3 linked regions of the Homo sapiens genome follow. The protein of the gene in region 1 interacts with the protein of each later gene in a biochemical or structural test. Each region holds a gene or a part of one and is shown on either strand. Other genes may lie near its edges. The genes, in order: SCYL1, COPG1 and ARF3.

Region 1 (3,745 bases):
AGCAGTATGCTTGGTAAAAGTCATCGCCATTCTCCATTCTCTATTAACCAGGGACATGATGCACTGTGCAAAGCCACAGGGACCTCTGCCCGAGAAAGCCTGGGTATTGTCTCCCCGACTGAGACAGCCTGATATGGCCTTGTGGGAAGGGAAAGACCTTACCATCCCCCAGCCCGACACCCGTAAAGGGTCTGTGCTGAGAATTAGTAAAAGAGGAAGATCTCTTTGCGGTTGAGATAAGAGGAAGGCCTCTGTTTCCCGTATGTCCCTGGGAATGGAATGTCTTGGTGTAAAGCCCACCAGTCATTCTATTCTGAGATAGGAGAAAACTGCCCTATGGCTGGAGGTGAGATATGCTAGCGGTGATACTGCTCTGTTACTCTTTGCTACACTGAGATGTTTGGGTAAAGAGAAACATAAATCCAGCCTACGTGCACATCCGGGCACAGTACCTTCCCTTGAACTTATTTATGATGCAGATTCCTTTACTCACATGTTTTCCTGCTGACCTTCTTCCCACCATCACCCTGTTCTGCCGCAGTCCCCTTGCAGAGATAGTGAAAATAGTAATCAGTAAATACTGAGGGAACTGAGAGACCAGCGCCGGTGCAGGTCCTCGTATACTGAGTGTGCCGGTCCCCTGGGCCCACTGTTCTTTCTCTATACTTTGTGTCTTATTTCTTTTCTCAGTCTCTTGTCTCCACCTGACGAGAAATACCCACAGGTGTGGAGGGGCAGGCCCCCTTCAAACATGTTGGTCAGGCTGACCTGGAACTCCTGACCTCAGGTGATCCTCCAGCCTCGGCCTCCCAAAGTGCTGAGATTACAAGCGTGAACCACTGTGCCTGGCCCTCACCCCAGTTTATAGATGGGGGACCTAACGCACCCAAAGGGAACTGTGTGAGTTCTCACATCCAATGAGGGGCTGAACCGTGATTGAAACCCAGCACCGTCTCACTGTGGCATCTCTGCCCTTGAGTTATCTCCCAAAGGCATCCCAACCAGACTTTTCATAACCAGTCCCAGAATCTCACCAGTGCTCCATAGCTGTGGTTGAGGCACTGTCCCCAAGCCTGGGTCCTGAGACCCTACCAGCAGAAGAACCACTGCCTGTCCAGCCCCTCCTACACAGCTCAGGGGCTGGATCCCCACCAGTGTGATGTGCTGATTGAGCTAACACCACTCCATGGCTGTCTACACAGGCACTGAGAGATGCAATCCGTTGGCTTGAGAGCCGGGCAGCTGAGCCCAGGAGAGCAGGGTCCCCTCCCAGCCCTTTGGCCTCTTCCAGACCTGCCCAGTTGCTCCTTCTCCCTCCCTCCTTTCCTGGGGTCACTTCTTCTTCCCTCCTCAGTCTCTCCTTCCTCCATTCCCTGGGTGCCCGCCCCTGCCCCGGGGTTCTGGACCTCCTTGGAACCTTGGATTCACTCTCTGCCTCTCACCCACGCTCTTTCTCTGGGGCGTCTCCTCGTGCTTCTCTCATGGTCACTTCACCAGGACCGACTCCTCCCCGGAGCCTGGAGGCACCCACTTGCTGGTGGGAGAGAGTGTCTGGCGTGGGGCCAGTCTCCCTCTCTGGGTCTCTGCCTCACTCCTCACTGCACCCTCTCATGCCTGTCAGTCTTTCTACCTCTCCCCCTTTTTGCCTCGGTTTCCCCATCCCTCTGTCCCTTCTTAAGCTCTCATCCTTACAGTACGCTAGAAGGCAGGCTCTATTATCCTTTAGGATTTAGGCCTCTTTAGATAAAAGGGCTCACAGGCTTGGAGGGTTTTAAGTGACTTACCCGGCGGCGGAGTACTGATCTTAGTACCGCCCGCCGCCCCGGACTGCCCCGCCCCTCCCTAGCCCCCCCATCCCCGCCCCTCCCTAGCCCCCCCATCCCCGCCCCTCCCTAGCCCCCCCATCCCCGCCCCTCTCCCGCCCCTCCCTTGTCCCCGCCCCTTCCCGCCCCAACTCAGGTTCTGCCCCACCCCGCCCCAATTCACGTCCTGCTCCGCCCCGACGTAGGCCCCGCCCTGGCCCCCGGGCCCCGCCCCCGTCTGACGCAGGCCCCGCCCCCTCTCCGCCCCGCCCCGGCTCGGGCGGCCGGAGGACCCGGAGCTAAGGCGCCCGAACCCGCGGCGGCGGTGGGGACGATGTGGTTCTTTGCCCGGGACCCGGTCCGGGACTTTCCGTTCGAGCTCATCCCGGAGCCCCCAGAGGGCGGCCTGCCCGGGCCCTGGGCCCTGCACCGCGGCCGCAAGAAGGTGAGTGCGGCCGAGCTCCGTAGGCCGCGGTCGACCTGGGCCTTGCCTATTCCGCGCCGCCGACCCCGTCGCGTTGCGCCCGGCCTGACGTGGCGGCGGAACCAAGGGGTAGCAGGCCGGGGAGGGGGCGGGCAGTGCCTACGTGGCGGGCGGAGGGACCGAGGGACCGACAGGCGGACAGGGCCGGGGTCACGTGGGCCCGGCGAAGTGTCCCTAAGGCTGACCTGGGGAGAGACCTGGCTGCGGGCCCTTGTCTTCCGGCCACACAACAGCTCTGGGACCATCTCAGGCCCCGCTGCCCTCCCCTAGGCCACAGGCAGCCCCGTGTCCATCTTCGTCTATGATGTGAAGCCTGGCGCGGAAGAGCAGACCCAGGTGGCCAAAGCTGCCTTCAAGCGCTTCAAAACTCTACGGCACCCCAACATCCTGGCTTACATCGATGGACTGGAGGTACCTGCTGCCTTGCCTGCCCGTCTCTGCCCCTCACGATGTCCTGGTTACCCACTCCTGTCTCCCCTCCTGCCCTGTTTCCACCCTATGTGCCCCAGCACCCCCAGATTTGGTTTCCTCTTCCCCATCTCTCCCAACTTCAAGTCGCTTATCTCTCCTTCCTCTCTGCCCCTCCGCCCTTGATAACCCTGTGTCCCCTTCCCCAGACAGAAAAATGCCTCCACGTCGTGACAGAGGCTGTGACCCCGTTGGGAATATACCTCAAGGCGAGAGTGGAGGCTGGTGGCCTGAAGGAGCTGGAGATCTCCTGGGGGCTACACCAGATCGTGGTGAGGTGGGGGGCAGTGGTGATGAGAGCAGGGATGGGGGGTTGCAGGTGCTGGGGCGTGATGGCTCCTTTTGCCCCCAGAAAGCCCTCAGCTTCCTGGTCAACGACTGCAGCCTCATCCACAACAATGTCTGCATGGCCGCCGTGTTCGTGGACCGAGCTGGCGAGTGGAAGCTTGGGGGCCTGGACTACATGTATTCGGCCCAGGGCAACGGTGGGGGACCTCCCCGCAAGGGGATCCCCGAGCTTGAGCAGTATGACCCCCCGGAGTTGGCTGACAGCAGTGGCAGAGTGGTCAGAGAGAAGTGGTGGGTGACTGGGGGCAGCGCGCCCCAACCTGCCCTGTCCTGGAGGCCCCTGCAGCCTCAGGACTCCTAGACTAGTTGGCACTCCCCTGTTCCCTGCTGCCTGGCTGGGGAGGGAATCAGTGTCCCAGGAGTGAGGGACACTCCTCTGCCCCCAGGGTCCTCAGGGCGGTAGGGCGGGATGGACACAGCATTCGGGGTTGGGTGATTCTGAACTTGAAAGCTCTGTGACCTGGACAGATGTGCCTAGTTCTCTGAGGCTTGGTTTTTTTAATCTGTTAAGTGAGGCTAATGAAACCTGCCTCTTGGGACTGATGGCTCAGCTGAGGGACATAGCCAGGCCCTGGCATGCAGTGGGTGCCTGGTGCCCAAGGCAGGCTGGAGGCCTGTGCAGGTGGTTGGTGGGGCCCTAAGA
Region 2 (3,745 bases), on another chromosome or scaffold:
CCTCCCAGGCTTAAGCAATCCTCCCATCTCAGACTCCTGGAGTAGCTGAGACAAGATAAAAATCAGTTTAGTCCTCAGATGTACCATAACTTCCTTAATCATCCCTTTATTGATAGACATTTAGGGTGTTTACAATTATTTTGCTGCAAACTGCTGCAGCAGGCAACTTCATTTTCTTTTTTCTTTTTTTTGAGACAGTTTCGCTTTTGTTGCCCAGACTCCAGGCTGGAGTGCAACGGCGTGATCTCAGCTCACTGCAGCCTCCGCCTCCCAGGTTCAAACGATTCTCCTGCCTCAGCCTCCCGAGTAGCTGGGATTACAGGTATGCACCACCACGCCAGGCTAATTTTTTTTTTTTTTGTATTTAGTAGAGATGGGGTTTCACCATGTTGGTCAGGCTGCTCTCAAACTCCTGACCTCAGGTGATCCACCTGCCTCAGCCTTCCAAAGTGCTGGGATTACAGGCTTGAGACACTGCGCCCGGCCTCATTTTCTTCTTTTGAACAATTTCCTCCTGATTAGGGGTGGGGTTACCGATCAGACATTTTGAACATCTTTCTGACTCTTGACAATTTTGCATGTCACAAGATCTGTTGTCCTTGGCCCTAGCCTCTGCAAAGCCAGACCCTAAGGGCTGGCCCCTCTGACATCTCCCTTCCTCCAGCTTTGCGGTCACCCTTTTCACCTGGGGCCTCTGCCTCAGCCTCCTGCCTCTCCTCTCCACAGCCCACTCCTTCTCCTGCCCACAGGCCTGCGGGCTTCCCCTCCCCAGGCAAGCTGGGGCCGTGTCGCAGCGCTTGGCCATCACGACTTTGCCATTGCCAATGCAATCTGGCTCACTGGCATGCACTGTGCTTACCTTAGCCTCAGGGTGTCCTGCATAGGTCCCCAGGAAGATAAACCCTGGGTGATGTGTCATTTTCCCCTTTCCGTTCCTTCCCACGCCCTTCCCCCCACCTCCCCGCGTAGGCAGCGCATCTAGTTGGCACTCCATAAATATCCAAAGTATTTACAAAATAACGTAGAAGTTCTATGCTGTTTAGTTAGATCTCTTAAGGTTGATAATGTACAAGGCAATTTGCATCAGGAGCAGACGAGATAGGGCCCGGCAGATATAAATTAAAAATGCAATTGCACGCATTCATTCAACGAGAACTCACTGAGCAACTACTATGTGCCAACATTATCCACTGCAGTGAATAAAAGACAAACAAACAAGCAAATAACAAAAAAAAAAACAAAAGAGCAAGAAAGTGGCCGGGTGCAGTGGCTCACCGCTGTAATCCCAGCACTTTGGAAGGTCGAGAAAGGAGGATCGCTTGAGGCCACGAGTTCAAGACCAGACTGGGCAACATCATAGTGAGACCTCGTCTCTACAAAAATTAAAAAATTAGTCGGGGGTGGTGCGCCCAGCTCTACTCGGGAGGCTGAGGTGGGAGGATCGCTTGAGCCCAGGAACTGTAGGCTGCAGTGAGCCAGGATCGCACAACTGCACCACAGCCTGGGCAGCAGAACGAGAAATAAATAAACAAATAAAAGCCAGAAAGTAAAAATAAAGTGTTAGATGGCGATTCGAGCTGAGGAGGAAATCAGGCAGGGGAAAGAATCTGAAAGCGAGGAGTGAGTGGCTGGCAAGGCTCCTTCGGAAGGTGGCAATAACAGTCATAGACCGGTCACATCAATTGGGTGTTTACTGCGGGCCAGTGTGTGCCACCAACCTCACACCCGAAAGCCACAAAGACTCACGCCACAACGCAACGAGGCAGGGGCTCCTCCTCCTCCCTTGGTATACGGAAAGAAGCGTAGGGAGCAGAGTTGGGATGCTAGTCAGTACCCCCCTGCACCTAGCCCTTGCCCCTCCGTCTGGCTTTCCCCACTCCCGCTCCGGCGGAGCTAAGGTTAACATTAGACGAGGCTGTGGCTACCGGAAAGAGCGCAGGCGCAGAGCGCGGAATGCGCCTGCGCAGAGCGCTGGGCGACGTGGCCAGTCGGGGCCCGGAAGTGGTCCCTGTAGAACCACTGTGGCACCGCTACTCCGTGCCGCGCCCGTCGAGCATTGCGTTGCTGCATTGCGCCCCACCGACTCCACTATGTTGAAGAAATTCGACAAGAAGGATGAGGAGTCAGGTGAGGGGGCCAGGCCTGGGTCTGAGGGAGGCCGGACCCCCACCCGCCGAGCTTTCCTTCTGGTTCTCTGTCCTGACCCGGAGGCTGAGGCCCAGTGAGGGGCAGGGGCTTGTGCCAGGGTCCACAGCTAGTCAGTGGCAGGCCTCGGAGAGCCCGAGCATGCGCGGCTGTCTCACTCTTGTAAGCTCGGACTGCAATTTTCTGGGTGACCTTGGGCGCGACAAACACCCCCCCCCCCAGGCCTCAATTTACCCATCTGTCAAAGGAGGGGACCATGCCGAATGTTCTCTTGTTACTTTCTTCGTCCAACCTCTTGGGATTCGCTGGGGCTACGTTGGTGCTGGCCAAACTGGGGTGTAACCTGCGGAGCCAGCGTCCTGTGACTGGGAACTCTGACCCCATCATTCATTTATTCAGCAAAGTATATTGAGCAGTTACTGTATGCCAGGTACTGTACGGTGTCCTGGATACTGCAACAGAGCAAGTGGGACACTCAGTGCCTGAGCTAGGAATATTAGAATGGTTGCACCCACGATGGAGGAGGCAGACATCAACCAGATAATCACACGTGTAATTATTTGCAAATGTGTCATCTGCTATGAAGGAACTAGTTACAACGAGATGGTGGTCCCTGGCACATAGGGACTTAGTTAATTACAAGTTATATAAATGAACACAAGACATGGCACCATGAGAAGCACAGGACTGTACCAGGGCTGCTGGGAGATTGTGAGTGGTTTGGGGTAGAGTGGAGCCCACCTGCTTGCAGGAGACTAGTAGGATCCCTAGACAGATTGTAGAGGCTTGATTGCCATTCCTGAGGAGTTTGAACTTTACTAGATTTCCTAGGAAGGGACATCTTCCCTTTACCTATGTCTGGGAGAGTTTTGAAGTTCAGAGTCACAACCTACCTTCTCCATTGTCCTTGACCGTAGGTGGAGGCTCCAACCCATTCCAGCACCTTGAGAAGAGTGCGGTACTCCAGGAGGCAAGTGACATTTGCTCCCCTCTAGCTTCCATCATAAATATTCACCACCAATGCAACTGAAATACCAACACATTCAAAGTGTTGTTTTAAAGAGCAACACGGGAGAAAACTTGTGCCTGGAAGTTTTCTGGAAGACAGGAAAACTTTGTTTCTGGAGAGAGTTAGTTATGCTTACTTCTTTTTTTTTTTTTTTTTTTTTTTTTTTCTGAGACAGAGTCTTGCTCTGTCGCTCAGGCTGGAGTGCAGTGGCGTGATCTCGGCTCACTGCAAGCTCCGCCTTCCAGGTTCACGCCATTCTCCTGCCTCAGCCTCCCAAGTAGCTGGGACTACAGACGCCCGCCACCACACCCGGCTAATTTTTTGTATTTTTAGTAGAGACGGGGTTTCACCGCGTTAGCCAGGACGGTCTTGATCTCCTGACCTCGTGATCCACCCGCCTCGGCCTCCCAAAGTGCTGGGATTACAGGCTTGAGCCACCGCGCCTGGCCTCTCTATTTAAACATTTAAAAAATTTCTCTATTTAAAGTTAATTCCAAAGCTAAGGAAACTGGTTTAAAACTATCACCTAAGCTAGACTGTGGCCATTATGCAGGTAGAGATTTTGCATGACTTGTTTATTTTTATTATATA
Region 3 (3,745 bases), on another chromosome or scaffold:
GAAGCAGGAAATCTGGGACTGCAGATAATGACTCTGTGTTCTAGTAATATTTTTCTTTTTGGGTCTTAAGTTTCCATTATCTATGCCTATTCTGTGCCTCTTAGGAAGGCAGAGACACAAAAACTTCTTAATTACAAAGGCTAAGGGTCTTTGTACCCTTGCTAAGCTATTTCCAGGCACTTCTGCTGACAGCCAAGCCATCTCTTGCCCTTTCCTTAAACTACAGTTAGAAAGCTTGTTGAGTTCTATCTATTTACATTCTAAATTCATCATGGGTACCTACTGTTTGCATGGGCATTGTGGAAGAGGAGACGAAATCCAGTTCCTGCAGTCGAAAAGCGTCTAGTCTCTTTGGAAAAGCAAGATAGACAACTATAAAAATTCTAACTATGCAAGGTAATAATTCTATGCTGGGAAACAGGACGCATGTGAATATGTGATACATGGGAGCCTTTCCTGGCTGAATCCAAGGTCAATCATTCATTCGGTGAAAAGCTGAACCTTAATGGATTAGTTTCTTTCTTAGAATGAACTTTTACAGACATGTTTTTCAAACTCAAGTCCAATGGGCTATGATAATCCACTGTCCCATAACACTGTCCCATGTCCCAAGTCACGGCAAGTGGAAACACCTACCCCAACAACAAGCCCAAGACAAAATAGCAGCAAAGACTGTTACTACCTACCTGATTGAGGACAGGGAAGGAGGTATGCAGCGACTAGATTCTGTCCTGTTGCACTGACCCAAGCAATCAGACTCTTGCAGCAGATCTCCTCCCAATAAAACTTTCATGCCATAGACCAGGGGTGACCCAATCCAACAACAGCAGAGACAGGTTTTAGGTTACATTTCTCCCTCACCGGGACGGCCTTACTATTTCTTCTCACTCCTGACCACATACCACAATCCTCCACCTCCACCACCACATTCCTCCTGGCCTGGAAAGATGGAGACCCGCCTTAATGCAATCAAGACGGGAATTCCCCCAAAATAACAGCTACCACTTTGCTAATCAAGTGGCCCGTTTTAACAGGGAACTCCACCTCCCCAACTCCCGCCCCTTCCCTCAAACGATTCGCGTAAGCAATGGCTCCATTTTCTGTTCCGGGAATCCTGGTACTTCCTAAAGAAAGAAAGCGGATTGGAAGACACAAACTGAGGGCCAGTGACAAGATGCTCCCTCCTCCTGTGAGACCGCCCCCGCTCCGCCTGGGGAGGAAGGCCCCACCTCTCTTCTCCCAGGAAGATCAGATCCCCCTCCTCCTTCTCCTGCCTCCTCTCCACCCTCTCCCCACTTGCTGCCCTCTTCCCAACCTGCGGTTCCCTAGACTCGAAAGCGCAACCTCTACCACAATAGCGCCCATGTGGTGCCCCAGCAGCCTGCCCTGTTGGCTAACCCCCAACCCCCCTACGCACCCCTGCCCTATGATGGGGGAGGGGGTGTAACCACAGCAAGGCTTCTCTCCCGTCTCCTATTGCTAAGGTGGGGGAGGGAGAGGGAGTAGAAGAAAGCAGCATTCCCTAGCCCTTTAACAGAAAAGATACAAACAGCCATCACCGCCCCCTCATCACCTCTCCTCGGACGGTTTTCCTCTCCCTCAACAGCACACCTCCTGCAGGCGACAACCTAACTGCAGCCCAGGTCGCCCCCTTGAGCGAGGCGGAGGACAAATCCGTGTGCGCCCCCCACCCCCACCCCAGCTCTGCGTCCTTCAAATGCGGGGGCAGGCGTGAAGCTGGCCCGACGCACCCTCTCTGAGCTCTCGGGTGGGAAGAATCCCACCGCCCCACGCCAAGCAGTGCCGGGCGGGGCCCGGGAGGCGCTCTATCTCCTCAGCCCTCACCCTGACCGAGCCTCTTCTCTACCGGGACCCGCCTTCCCTTCCCAGCCTCTCACCTGTTCCTGCTATCAGCTGCGCCGCTGCGGCCGCCGCCTCTGCCCCGCAGGTTCCGCTCCGCTCCCTCTGGCTCCCCAAGCCGACTTCAGCCCGGCTGCTGCCCTGGCCCACTCCCCGGCTCCCTCCTTCCTTCCCTCCACCTAGCACCGGAAGCCGCGACGGCGACTGGAGCTGTGCGGCGTACCCCCACCCCCAGCCCGGGATACTTCCCACCTCCCCGATCGCGCGATAGCTGCGCGGTAGCTAGCGGCAGTTCTCGCGAGACCCATCACCATGGCAGCGGCTGCAGCACCGGCGGCCGGGCGCTGGAGCTGGAGTCAGGGCGGGGGCAGGTGTGGGGGCTGTGGGCGGCGGAGGCGGGAGCCGTGAATGGGGATGAGACAGTGAGGACTGAGGTGACAATCCCAAGCTCCAGGGTTGTGCCTGGAATTTAAGGACTGAGGCGGCAAGTTGGCTGCGTAGGAGACGGGCTGGGCTGCGGGGCCCAGGGGCTCCTTGGGCAAAGCCAGCATCGGGATATGGGTGAACAGTCGTTGCTGTGGCATGCCTTACCCAGCCAGACTTCATCTTTATTTCTTAATCTGGGCTAGCTGCCATCCCCTGAAAGCCCTCACCGCACCATTGTTGTTGCTCACTATTCCTGAGACTAGATTACTGTGGGGTCTGAATCAAGAGATCCTTTCCCATAAGGAAGAGGAAGGAGAGTGATGAACTTAAGAGGCTAAAGGAAAACAGCTGGACTCTGAGCCAGTTAAGTTGGAACTTGAAAGACGGAGAGTGGAAACCTAATATTCAGAAGTGTGGTTTGAGGAAGTGTGCCTAGATGAGTAGGGATTTTAGTATCCCAAGGAAAGGTGAAGGACTTTGCACCCATATTTCTTGCTTCCTACCCACTCCTACTTCCCTCACACTCCGTTTTGCACCTGGTCTAGACATGCAGAACTGCCTTGAAACAAAAATAGCTGTGATAGAAGGGCACTAGTAATGCTAAGAACAGAAGGTTCCTTTTTTTTTTTTTTTTTTTGAGACAAGAGTCTCACTCTGTCGCCCAGGCTGGAGTGCAATGGCACCATCTTGGCTCACTGCAACCTCTGCCTCCCGGGTTCAAGCGATTCTCCTGCCTCAGCCTCCTGAGTAGCTGGGATTACAGGCGTGAGCCACCGCGCCCGGCCAATAGAAGGTTCTCTAAGTGCCCTCTCTCCTCATTTACAGCAGTATAAGGGAATGAACACATGGCTCTTCCCTAAGGCTTGAGCCCAAATTGTTGCTCTTATGAATTTATTGCCTTGGTTGATTTTGTTTGTTTGTTTCCTTGCTTCCAAGAAGAACTAAGCTGGGGCCAGGCCCTGTGTTCACACTTGTAATCCCAGCACTTTGGCAGGCTGAAGTGGGCAGATCACTTAAGGTCAGGAGTTTGAGACCATCCTGGCCAATATGGTGAAACCCTGTCTCTACCAGAAAATACAAAAATTAGCCGGGCATGGTGGCACATACCTGTAATCCCAGCTACTTGAACTGAGGCCAGAGAATCGCTTGAACCTGGGAGGCGGAAGTTGCAGTGAGCCAAGATCGTACCACTGCACTCCAGCCTGGGCGACAGAGTAAGACTTTGTCTCAAAGAAAAAAAAAAAAAAAGCTGGTAGGTGCCATATATGTCGATCTCCTTGTCCTCATCAATCCCTGGTGTATGCACTTACAGTCCCTTAACCCAGTCTGTTCTCTCTCTTATGTTAACCTGATAACATGACCCTAGAATGTCAAGCTAAGGGGACCTTAATTTAAGATGGTAAGGGATGAGATGGATGACAAGGAACCTGTTTATAACAAGGAATTATATCTGTCCTGG

The links.
Region 2: the proteins of SCYL1 (region 1) and COPG1 form a complex in vitro, tested with the Homo sapiens proteins (one study listed by BioGRID).
Region 3: the proteins of SCYL1 (region 1) and ARF3 form a complex in vitro, tested with the Homo sapiens proteins (one study listed by BioGRID).

What each region holds. Positions count from the first base shown.
Region 1 is NC_000011.10:65,523,018-65,526,762, forward strand, and holds the start of SCYL1 (N-terminal kinase-like protein), read left to right. Parts: upstream 1-2,065; 5' UTR 2,066-2,136; coding exon 2,137-2,247; intron 2,248-2,536; exon of another isoform or gene 2,537-2,556; coding exon 2,557-2,697; intron 2,698-2,903; coding exon 2,904-3,026; coding exon of another isoform or gene 3,027-3,031; intron 3,032-3,106; coding exon 3,107-3,333; intron 3,334-3,745. UniProt on the Homo sapiens protein: Regulates COPI-mediated retrograde protein traffic at the interface between the Golgi apparatus and the endoplasmic reticulum. Involved in the maintenance of the Golgi apparatus morphology.
Region 2 is NC_000003.12:129,247,620-129,251,364, forward strand, and holds the start of COPG1 (coatomer subunit gamma-1), read left to right. Parts: upstream 1-1,986; 5' UTR 1,987-2,090; coding exon 2,091-2,127; intron 2,128-3,062; coding exon 3,063-3,115; intron 3,116-3,745. UniProt on the Homo sapiens protein: The coatomer is a cytosolic protein complex that binds to dilysine motifs and reversibly associates with Golgi non-clathrin-coated vesicles, which further mediate biosynthetic protein transport from the ER, via the Golgi up to the trans Golgi network.
Region 3 is NC_000012.12:48,955,412-48,959,156, forward strand, and holds the start of ARF3 (ADP-ribosylation factor 3), read right to left. Parts: upstream 2,077-3,745; 5' UTR 1,899-2,076; exon of another isoform or gene 687-1,898; intron 350-686; exon of another isoform or gene 284-349; intron 1-283.